Linked DNA regions of Homo sapiens: regions 1, 2 and 3 are each linked to region 4. Evidence: fine-mapped expression QTL. A gene starts in region 4. Each other region holds a variant in brackets. All regions are shown on one strand. Distances are between the middles of the regions. Region 1 has its middle 27 kb from the start of MYEOV. Region 2 overlaps LOC105369370 (a long non-coding RNA gene). Region 3 holds the start of SMIM38 (small integral membrane protein 38). Region 4 holds the start of MYEOV (myeloma overexpressed).

The links.
Region 1: its variant is fine-mapped to the expression of MYEOV in subcutaneous fat (GTEx, PIP above 0.99). The same link has a PIP of 0.9 or more in tibial nerve.
Region 2: its variant is fine-mapped to the expression of MYEOV in whole blood (TOPMed, PIP 0.94).
Region 3: its variant is fine-mapped to the expression of MYEOV in esophagus muscle (GTEx, PIP above 0.99).

Annotation. Positions count from the first base shown.
Region 1 is chr11:69,319,665-69,322,344 of GRCh38, reverse strand. No RefSeq gene overlaps it. Among named protein-coding and RNA genes, the nearest start is that of MYEOV, 27 kb to the right of the region's middle. RefSeq lists an enhancer at 855-1,721. The variant A/G (reference allele first, on the strand shown) is at 1,258.
Region 2 is chr11:69,366,725-69,369,404 of GRCh38, reverse strand. It overlaps LOC105369370 (a long non-coding RNA gene), which reads right to left. Exons shown (of 5, transcript XR_950269.4): 3 at 2,539-2,662; 4 at 2,293-2,366; 5 at 1-2,110. Among named protein-coding and RNA genes, the nearest start is that of LINC02953, 58 kb to the left of the region's middle. The variant T/G (reference allele first, on the strand shown) is at 1,321.
Region 3 is chr11:69,154,643-69,157,322 of GRCh38, reverse strand. SMIM38 (small integral membrane protein 38) reads right to left here and starts at 1,388. Exons shown (of 3, transcript NM_001369201.2): 1 at 1,209-1,388; 2 at 1-149. All of the region lies in intron 2 of LOC338694 (a long non-coding RNA gene), which reads left to right. RefSeq lists a silencer at 1-22 and an enhancer at 907-1,834. The variant A/G (reference allele first, on the strand shown) is at 1,194.
Region 4 is chr11:69,292,625-69,295,283 of GRCh38, reverse strand. MYEOV (myeloma overexpressed) reads right to left here and starts at 1,129. Exons shown (of 3, transcript NM_001293291.2): 1 at 708-1,129; 2 at 1-51. RefSeq lists an enhancer at 2,007-2,558.

The sequences.
Region 1 (2,680 bases), 27 kb before region 4:
TTAGAAATAACCCACCACCACTGCCAGGATCACCACCATCAGAAACAGCAACTCCATCACCATAGCAACAACACAAACATCACAACCACCATCTGCCAGGCAATTCATCATGGAGCCATAGTTCTTAGATGTAGACATAGCCAGGGAACTGTGAAGCTAAACTGAAAGGGAGAAGTCAATTGAATCAGATTTTCCAAGTGGGAACTCCTTTCATGGAGACCAGGCTTGCACCCAGCTCTTTTGTGGCCGGAACCCAGCATCCTGCTCACAGCATTGAAATGTCTCAGAGATGGCTGAGCTGATCCCAAAGGCCTGCGATTGTGTTTTTGGGAGAAACACACGTGAGTCACTGGGGCTGACATTCTTTGGGATCTGACAAAGTTTCTACTTTGGGGACCTGCTAACTGACTCAGCAGCGATTCACTGAGGAAAACCAACAGGGCAGCTGGGAAAACGTGCCCCATCAGTGTGTGCTGGGGCCACTGTGCGCTGGAGCTGGGGCTGGGGGCTGCACACTCGGCTTCTTGCTGAATTCTGTATAGAACTCTAGGTGGAACTGAGCCTCAGAGAGATGATGTGGGGCACCCCAAGGGTGCACAATGAGTAACAGGTAGAGGCAGAACTTGAACCAAAATCCCTGTGACCCTAGAGCCTCCAGTCATCATTGCCCTGTGCTATCACCACATGGTCACCGGGCTGGCCTTCCATCTGCTGCACCCTCATGGACCTGGGAGCCCTGCTCTGGCTTGCACCCAGCTTTCCAGGAGGATGCCTGGGTCGTCCTGGGGGTGTTTAGAGTGTACCCCATCAAAGCCTCCTGCATAGGGAGGCAGTGGCACATCACAGCTAGAGGCCTCTCTGGGGTACAGACCACCCTCCTAGGCTGCCACAGAATGGGGAAGTGTCAGGTTTCCACTAGGAAAGAATGACTCAAGTTGGGAAAACTACTGGGTACAGGGAAACCATAGGGGCAGGCAGTGCACCACAGTCCATGCCCCAGGGCTGCGGCCACCCTGAGGCTGAAGGTTTAAGGGAAGGCATAAGCCATGCCAGAACCTGGAAAGGAGGGAATGTTGGAGAGGGGCCTGCCTTGGGAGAAGCTTAAGACCTTCAGTCTAGGGACACAGCCTGCCCAAAGTGACCCCAAAGCTTTCGATGCTGTGACATGAATATTCTGACTTCACCCTCCCCTCTCCCTTTCACCTACAGCTGGGGCACTCCCAAAAGGAAGCCAGAGGGCATGGGAGCTGAGGAATG[A/G]GTCCATCGGGCTTAGCCCCTGAAGCAGAGAGCAGAGCAGAGGGCAGGCCTGGAGGGGCAAAAGAAGGCATTTCCGGCACAGGGGTTCTTGCCCTGGACACCCACAGAACTCCTGGGGTGCAGGGACTCTTGGGGCCTCCTCAGCTTGGGCTGAAACGCTCCCCGGGTTCCTCTCTTCTTGTCTCTTGGCTCCTGCCCTGCCCTGGGGGTGGTCAGCGTTACCTCTGGGATTGACAGAGGGTCCGTCCACACCTCTCACTCTCTCCCTGCCTCACTCATGGCCTGTGTCTCCCTACCACTCTCCTGAGTCCCACTTCTCTTTCTTTTCCTCAGCTACTGTCTCCATCCCCTGAAGGATCCCGCATTGTGGTTTATCCAGACCCAACTTATGTGGGTGTTAGAGTGAGAGACCCAACAGTTACCTAAGACTTTTGGGGAGGCAGGCTGGGGGCACCCTGTGCAGTCTGCAGGGGAAGGATGCAGCCCTGGGGAGGAAGGACACCCGCTGCCCTGGCATCTGCACACAGGGCACTGGGTAATGATTCCCCCGGGTGAATGTCTGGCTCAGGAATGTGGACTTTCCCAGGGGTGGGAAGTTGGTGGCGAGAAGGAGAAACGCCCTTGGTTTGGGGACTCCTGCAACGCGCCCTGAGGCCGGAGGTTGAAAAGCATAGAAAGTTGAGGTCTCTGCTGGAGTTACCCACCAAAGGAGGGTACCACTGGATGGGGTGATAGGTGGCCAAAGTGGGGGAGACAGGAGGCAGCGGCCAGGGGGAGCATGAAATCCTTCCAATCTCAGGTCTTCCAGCAGGTCTGGGGGTCCTCAGGGGGTTGCAGGTGGCCCTGGAAGTATCTCTGGGGACCAACGTGCACATGGCCCCATCTACACGCACCCCTTCATCCTGGGCTGTGCTCACTGCCTTCTTGCAAGGAGCAGAACTCACCACCACTGTCCCTGTGGGTGCCAGCAGAACGCCCAGAGTCGTTGCCAGTGGTCAGCCTGTAGAGCACCCCTTCCCTCTGCAGAGCTTGCATCCATGTTGGGAAGTCCCCAGGCTCCACGTCCAGCATCGTGGTGCACAAACACCTCCGCCTTCCTGCCCCTCTGTAGCCTTTGACATTGACTCCCTCGTCAGACAGTAAGGGAGCGTGTCCTCCAGGCTCTGGGAAGTGCGGTGAACCCACCTCCCTTTCTGCTTTAGCGGAGCTCAGAGCCTGCTGAGGGAGGAAACACAGGCACTGTGCCTGCACATAGAGAAAGGCCTCACTCGGCCTTGAAGGCCACCCAGTGTGGGTGACAATGGACTACACTGGAAACCTTGCTAGACAGAATATCCAGGGACAGCAGTCACACTTGGAGCAAGGGCTCCCAGACAACAGGTGGTCTGATGGCATCTAGGAGTTGCAAATAGATCCATGTGGC
Region 2 (2,680 bases), 74 kb before region 4:
GGAAGTCCACTGCAGCATTTTTAATGGCAAATTTGAAAACAGCCTAAATGTCCATCAATAGGAGAGTGGATGGATAAATTGTGCTGTTTTCACACAATAAAATACCGTGGAACAGTGAAGATGAGCACACACATCAGATATCACTAACATGACATTGAGACTAAGGAGGCATACAGCTACATACAACGTGGTGTCCTGAAGTCCCAGGATCCTGGAACACAAAAAGGACATGAGTGGAAACACTGGTGGAATTTGAGCCAAAGTGTGACTTAGTTGATGGGGATGCACCAATGTAAATGTCTTAGTTTTGATCAATGGACTGTGGTTATATAAGATGTTCAGACTAGGGGAAGCTGGTGAAGAGTGTCAGGGAACTTGGCATCTGTGCAACTCTTCTGTGAATTCAACATTATTTCAAGAGGAAAAGTAAAAACAAAAGCAAGTTACAGGCAAGTATATACAATATTAGACTGCTTGTATTCAAGTGACGCTTATGGAAAATTGTTTCATATATTGTTTAGGGAGATATAAGAAGTGAGCGCATAAAGAGAGCTGAGGGCCATGCTTCTCCCCACTGCGAGTGGGGTGGGGAAGGGTTGTGGGAGACTGGGGAGGGGGAAGAGGGATGCAGGAGGGATTTCCACTACCTTGATACTGTTTTACTTCTTCAGCTGAGTAGGGGTGTGCCTAGGTGTTTATTCTATGACTCATTACACTTTTGGTATGCCTGACATATGTCATGATAATTTTTTAGAATCCTGTAAACCTTATGTAGCCCCAACTGCTCAATGCACAGGCAAAATCAACTCAAGAAATCGGCGTCAGAGAGGGGCTGGGAACGAGCCTCCAAGTTCCAGTTTGGAATCTCTCTTCACCACATGAAATGCTTCCTGGGCGGGTTTTCTGGGTGCAGACAGGAGGTTATAAGTACTCTAACAAGTTCGAGGGGCCCACTCCAGAAGGGCAGGTTCCAGCCACCCTGACTTGCCCAGGGCAGGGACACAGCCTCACTCCAGGCACATGGCTCCTTGCCCCTCTCTCCCTGACTCGAGACCTTGCCCAGACCTAGCCCCATGCCCAGGGTCTCCTGGCCCCTGAGTTGACTTTTGCTTCTAAACAAGGTGAAAAGGCAGTTGATGTAGCAAGTGGGGGTGGCAGTGTTCCCTGAGGGGTTGAGTGGGTGGTCCGTGTATGTGGGTGTGTGGTCACCGGGGCCCTGGCACTCAGAGAAGATGCCTGCTGTGCCTGAAGAGGGAGTGTGAGGCACACTGAGGGGGCTTTGCAAACACTGATGGTTTCTTCTCTTATTAAAGTCAGGCA[T/G]CTCATTAGGGCAAACCTGAGAAATGCAGAAAAAGCAAAAAATTTAAAAATAAAAGAGAAAAACAACCACATGCCCGCTTCCCCTGCCCCCCATAACCACCACTTATGCCCCGAGTTTTTCCTTTATTTTTCTGAAGTGCAATTACTAGGTCAAAGTGAATGAATAATTAAAGACTCAATGCAAAATACCAAAGATTTGACCTTTGGTATATATAGAGAGAGGGAAAGACAGAGAGAGGAATAGAACCTCCCTTCTCTAGTGAGGGGAAGGGGATCATTTTTATAGCCCAGTTTTACTTCTTGTAAAAGTCCCATGACACCAACATTCAACAGCATTCGAACTGAGTCACCTCACCCTGAAGCTCATCATTAATTTCAACATGAGATCATTTCTTCAGCCCTGCCAGTCTTCATCTACAAAGAGGCAAGTTCTGGTTTGCAAGTGACAGTTGGTAGACGTCCTTGGAAGTCAGCTTTCTCCCCGTGCCGGTTTGCCACACAGATGGGTTCACACAGCATTTTCTTGGTAGGAACTATCTGATGAGCAGCAGACACCTCTGTGGTGGATGGACTGTGGGCTCGAGGGTCCAGAGGGGGCACTCCCTGTATTTCGAGGGCTACGAAGCTTAGCTGGCCCCTATGTCTGGGCCTGGGGTTGTTTTCACAGATGATTCTGCAGGGGTGGTGTCCGCACGGTGGTGGGTTGCACTCAGTGGATCATCTCTGCACAGAAATCCCCAGCTTAGAGCTGCACTTCGTGGCACTGAGTGTGGAAAGTGAAGTTGTTGGCCTGGTGAGGATCATCAACAGGAAGCAGGTGTTGGCTGGACTGGGGAGAGCGTGTCCCAGGCCCCCCACCACCCTCCGCCCCGCTCTCCAAGCCCGGACTGCCTCATCCATAAGCCCGGACTGCCTCATCCGTAAGAAAGGACAAATAATACCAAACTCATAGACCTGTTGTGAGGTAAATACCTGGGCAAATTTTCACAGAGGCTTTAAATGCTTTAAACCAGGAATCTCCAAACTTCTTTTGCTGTCTTCCATTACTTAAAAAAAAAAAATTTTGAGCTTGCATCCCCAGTAAAATATATATAAATTTTCTTTTAATTTGTATACATGTACATCTACCATACCAATAAGTTATAAAACATTAGAAAACACATAACAATATTGAAATTAAAAAGAATGAAATTTAGGGCTGGACATGGTGGTACACACCTGTAGCCACGCCTACTAAGGAGGCTGAGGTGGGAGGATTGCTGGAACCCAGGAGTTCAAGGCTGCAGTGAGCTGTGATCACACCACTGTCCTCCGGCCTGCATCACAGAGCTAGACCTTGTCTCTTAAAAAAGAAATAAAT
Region 3 (2,680 bases), 140 kb after region 4:
GCCCTTTCTCTCCCCAATTAGCTATCACTTCTGGAGGCCGCGCCGTCCAGCGCCGGCCCACGGTCTCCGCAGCAGCAGGCCCGGGATGGGGCGGGGGCCGGGAAGCTTGGCAGGGAGGCTGGGGCCACCACGGGGAAGAAGGACGGAGCCTGAGGATGAAAAGCCAAGGAGAAAAGGGGAGAAGATGAGGACAGGCGGCCACAGCCCACAGGCGGCCCCAAACACAGCTCAGCAGCACAAGGACCGCGCTCTGGGCCTCTGATGGCAAGGGGGTCAGCGCGGGAAACCGGCTTCATCCCCCAGGAAGGGGACCGGTGGACCCCCAGCAGCACCTCCCTCCAGCTCGCCCCTCCAACCTCCATCAAGAAGCCTTAGGTGGGACCTGTAGCCCTAAGCTGGGGCGCACAGGCCTGCAGGGTCCCCTGACATCCTCACAGTCACCCTGGACCGGAGGCCAGTCCTGCCTTCTACTAGCTGAGTGACCTCGGGCAAGTTGTGCAACCTCTCAGAGCCGCAGATCCTGCCTTAGAAAGTGAAGCAAATACCTCCTGCTTTGAAGGATTAGGGGAGAGAGCACTTCTCAGGGGCCACGCCCAGCGCCTGGGCACAGAGATCCTGGCCCCTGCCTCTCAGTGGATGCCTTCAGAAAGGCCTCCACATCTTTTCTGAAATAACAGTGTCTGCCCAGCCTTCTCTGACTGCCACACGCGCGCACACACACACACACACACGCATACACATGTATACATGTGTGTGCACACAGACTCACACGTGTGCACACCCAATAAGGACACATTGACCTCTACAGGCTCTGCCCCCCAAGTCCAGCTCTGGCCTCTCACAGCCGAGTTTCTGTGAGTGAGAGATAAACCGCCAGAACTGCCCCCTCTAACTCCAAGCCTACATCCTGTAAAGCAAAGGGGCCCCAGTTGGAGCTAGGGGGCTGAGCGTGAGGAACAGAGGTCTCTGGCGGCTGGGTCCTGGGAGTCCGGCCAGTTCTCACCAGCAAATGTCCAGCCTGAGCTACAGAGAACAGCAATGGGGGCCTTCCTGGCCACAGGGATCTGGGGCCCATCGCTGGTCGCCGGAAGCCAGCTCTTCAGTTCCTTCCCAGTCTACAAAATGAGTGTCCTCCCTGCCAAGCCTTTCCAGAAGGTTCAAACGGGACCACACGTTCAAACGGGAAGTGGAGC[A/G]TGATGCCAACTCACCTTGGGCCGGGCACCGCCTAAGCTGCCTTCCCGCAGCCACCCTGGAGCCCCTGCCTGGACTGGCAGAGGCTGTCTGGGAAGCATGCCTGGCCCTTCCTCCATCTGTGGTGTGCCCTGCACCCACTGGGCTGCCTGGCACTGCTGTCAAAGGCCACTCACTTAGGGAACGTTGAGCTCTGGGCTTGTTTTCCACGCGCAGCGGTTTGAAGATCACTTCGAACGTGGGTGGGGAGTTAGCTCTCTGGACCCCGTCATAGAGTAAGTCATCGATAGAGCATTTGCTTGATGGGGACTTCCAGAAGGCCAGGGAAAGTCCTGCCGACTTCCTGGGGAAGCCCATCCGCACGTGGGGTGAGGGTCCCCAGATGGGAGCAGCTGTGTATGCAGGGAGGGGGCAGAGGCTGCTGCCAATGGGCATGTCCCTTACCTGAAAGGGCCACCTCTCCAGGTGACATGTCCTGGGGGAGCCGGGGCCGTCTGCTCCGGCCAGAGGCGCTCAGCTCAGGCCACACCAGGCAGGGCACCTCCCAACCTGGACAGGTGGGGACCAAGGTGGCCTTGGACAAAACTCTCTGTGTTTGCCAAGCACCCAATCGGACACAGAGAGTCAACCACACCCCAGTCACATGGTGTCCACACGCAGGGGTCAAGGAGGCCCGGCCCCTCCCCCTCAGACGTCCCTGGGCCTCTGGGAGTCAGCAAGGACGAGGACGGCATGCCCTTCGAGACAGGAAGGGAGTGACCTCCTCCCAGCGGCATCCAGGCTCGGCTTCTCCGGAGAGGAGAGGGGGCTACTTGCTGGATAAAGCGGCCGGGGCCACAGAGAAAAAGCAAGTGACCATGAGCACGTTGCAGACACAGTGCACCGACAGCATTGCAGCACGGGGACTGTGAGACCTCCCATTCTCGGGGGAAACTCCCCAAGTCCCCCCACCATCAGCAGTGATGTGACTGGGGCGGCGACCTGTGCTGGGAGCCTCCACCAGCTCCTGCGCCTCAGGCCCTGCTGCCCTGCACCTTCGCTTCCAGTAGGACCCTTCTCCAGGGCATTCTGGGCCACAGGAGCCACCCCAGTGCACAGAGACCCGAAGGCCCAGGAAGTTCCCTCCCCCAGGCAGCCCTTAACCTAAGGCTGACCTGGGCAGGACGTAGCCCAGCTTCCCTGCTTTGGACCAGGACAAACTAGAGGCCACTCTGAACCCCCAGAGCTCCCCCTGAAAATCCCAGGGACGTGCGGCTGTGCCTGGAGTCGCCCCCTTCCCAGACTGCTCCCCTTCATCTTGCCCTCCCTGCTCCTCCCTCCTGTGTCTCCCCATCACACCACCCCCCGAGTTACCCGCCTGTGAATATAATCCAGGATAAGAGTGACGAGCGCCTCATCAGCGCAGACCCAGACCCCGCCAATGGGAACGCATGGAGCTGGGCGGTGGTGGCTCCCAGCCCCGGGCCTCTGAGGATGGATCCGGGGATGC
Region 4 (2,659 bases):
ACGTGGCTGGATTTAGGGTCTGAGATGAACTTTCCTGCTCCTGAATGGACTCTGAGGAGAAGGAAGATACTACCATCCGTAATCCACCCCGGGAAGGCACTGACCTCCTTGACCATGGGGAGGATGAGAGGCCGCCGCTCTGTGCCTGGGTCCCCATGGCCTCTAGGGTCCCTTCACGTTTTCACCTCATGATCCTGGAAGCTGGGACCTGCCCAAATCCACCGGGTGGCCCCAGCCTCCCCATCTCTGGGGCAGGGGGTGGGCAGCCTTCTCCTCCTGGTTTATAGCCACAGATGACTCCAGGCACAGTGGTCCTCAACCGCCTCTAGGGACCATGGGGACGGCTGCCCTCTGTGTGTGACGGTGGCTGGGCAGAAGCCAGCTGGGCTGTCGTGGGTAGGGCCTGGAGGCCTCTGGCTGTATGGTGGTCTAGCTTTGGCACCACCTTGGGGGGCTCCGGGTAGGAGGTGTCCACCAGAGGGGACCTGGGCAGCTCAGCAGAGGCTTGGTCACTCCCGAGCCGTCTGTGGGTCCCACTGGTCTGTACCCTCAACCCCACTGACCTGCACTGGTCATGCCCAGCTCTCACAGGATGATGGCCCCAGCCTTGTAATGAGTCACCTGCTGCCCTCCTGCCCCTCCAGCTGGTCCCCCACCCAGCAGCCACAGGGCTTTCCTTAAAACATAAGAAAGACCCTGCTTCTTACCTGCTCAGATCCCACCAAGAACCGGCCACCTCACTCCAGATAAACTCCAGACTCTTCACTGAGCCCAAAGGCAACGAGCAGAAGTGTCCAGAAATCACACAGAGCTCAGCAGGTGGTGAGGCACCTGGACCCGAGTCACCCAGCAGCTGAACAGGCCATCCCTGAGGCCATGCACGCCCCGGCCCTGCAGGTGTGACGGCCGAGGCTTCCACGACGGGGGGTGAGTGGGAGCTAATATGGCTGGTGAAAGCACTGGGTTCAGTGGGGATGGCATCTCCCGCCCTCTGTCCAAGGTGGGGAAAAAGTCAGCTTCAGGTGAGGGAGACCCTGGACGCCTGGCTTTGGGCTGATTCCCCACTCACTTGGCCTCTCCCAAGCATACTTTCCTGCTTTGTAGGGATGTGGGTTCGCGGGACAGTAACAGGAGAATCAAGGCAAGAACTCAGAGGGGGATAGCCAAGGTAGGCGGAGCTGCCTGGTGGGTGGGACTAACCCAGGTGGGTGGGGCTGCTTGTGAGTGGGGCTAGCCCAGGTGGGTGGGGCTGCCTGGTGGGCAGGGCTTTCTTCCCCGTCAACATTTCCCTCTCTCGGTTAAGGCCAGGGCAGAGCCCACACATGGGTGTGCCCAACCTTAAGGCCTGCCCTGGGTGAGTTAAGACTCCCCAGCTCACCTAGGTCCTACCTGAGGGGAACCTACACGGCCAACCTCCTCAAGGATCCTGAAGCCACCCAGAAGACAGTGGGGCTAGGGTGCCATTCATTCATTCATTTATTCATTCACCTATTCATTTATTTACTCGCTTCACCACCCTTTCCTGGGTAATATTAAGAATAACAGTGGGCCTAGGAATATAGAACATTCTTAGGGGTTTCTTGCAGGCCAGGCACCCTAAGAAAAAGTTATGTAACCCACGTGGCCTCGCTGTGAGGGGGACGACTGCTGTCCTCACTTAATAGATGAGGAGCTGAGCCATGGAGGCCTCACAGCTGGGCAGCTGGGGGTGGACCCCATAGACTGGAGGGGGATGGGCAGGGGCAAGGAGTTCTGCTGGCCCCAGGCCTCTTGTACACATCTTGGGAAGTACTAAAAATGAGTACTTGCTCAAGTCCCTCTCTTCATTGAGCACAGGGAGCTCTTGGCCCTTCCCTCCTCCTCCCTTTACCCTCACCGCCCAATTCCACACGGGTGTACTGAGCACTTGCTAAGGGCCAAGACCAGCACTAGGTGGAGCACACAGTAGGAACCCAAGGCAGCCCTCCCTGCCCAGCTCTCCAGGACACTGTCGTCAATGCCAGCGGGAAGCATAGAGAGGCCAGGGAAAGACGGGCAGTCAGGAGGAAGGAGCCAGCGGAGGGGAGAGAGGGCCGGCAGCTCAGTGCACCTGGACCGTGGTGGATGCTGGACTATGACCAGAGACAGGGCTGCAGCCCAGAGCTAGCCCCAGACCCACAGGGCCTCAGGGGGCTTCACAGGCTTTGTCAGGGGTTTGGACTTTCTCCCGAGGGCTGGGGACCCTGCAAGTTGCAGAAACTGGGCTATATTTGGCATTTTAGAAGCCTCCCCCAGCTGTAGTGGAGGGGAATTGGAGGGAGTGGGAGAGGAGGTTCCCATTCTCACTCAGGTGGGAGATGGTGGTGGGATGGAGGGTGACCCTGATTGATAGGACTCAGGGACAAATTAAAGGTGAGGGCCAGGGAGAGGGTTATCCAGACAGCTCCCAGGAAGATGGCAGTGGGATGGAGGGTGACCCTGATGGGACTCAGGGACAAATTAAAGGTGAGGGCCAGGGAGAGGGTTATCCAGACAGCTCCCAGGAAGATGGTGACACCAGTGAGGTGGGGAGATAGGATGGCATTTGGTTCCCACTGAGCTGGAGATGCCTGTACAAAGCTTCTAAGATACCCAAGGCAGAATCTGCAGCTCCTGCAAAGACAAGAGCTCTGCTCTGCCT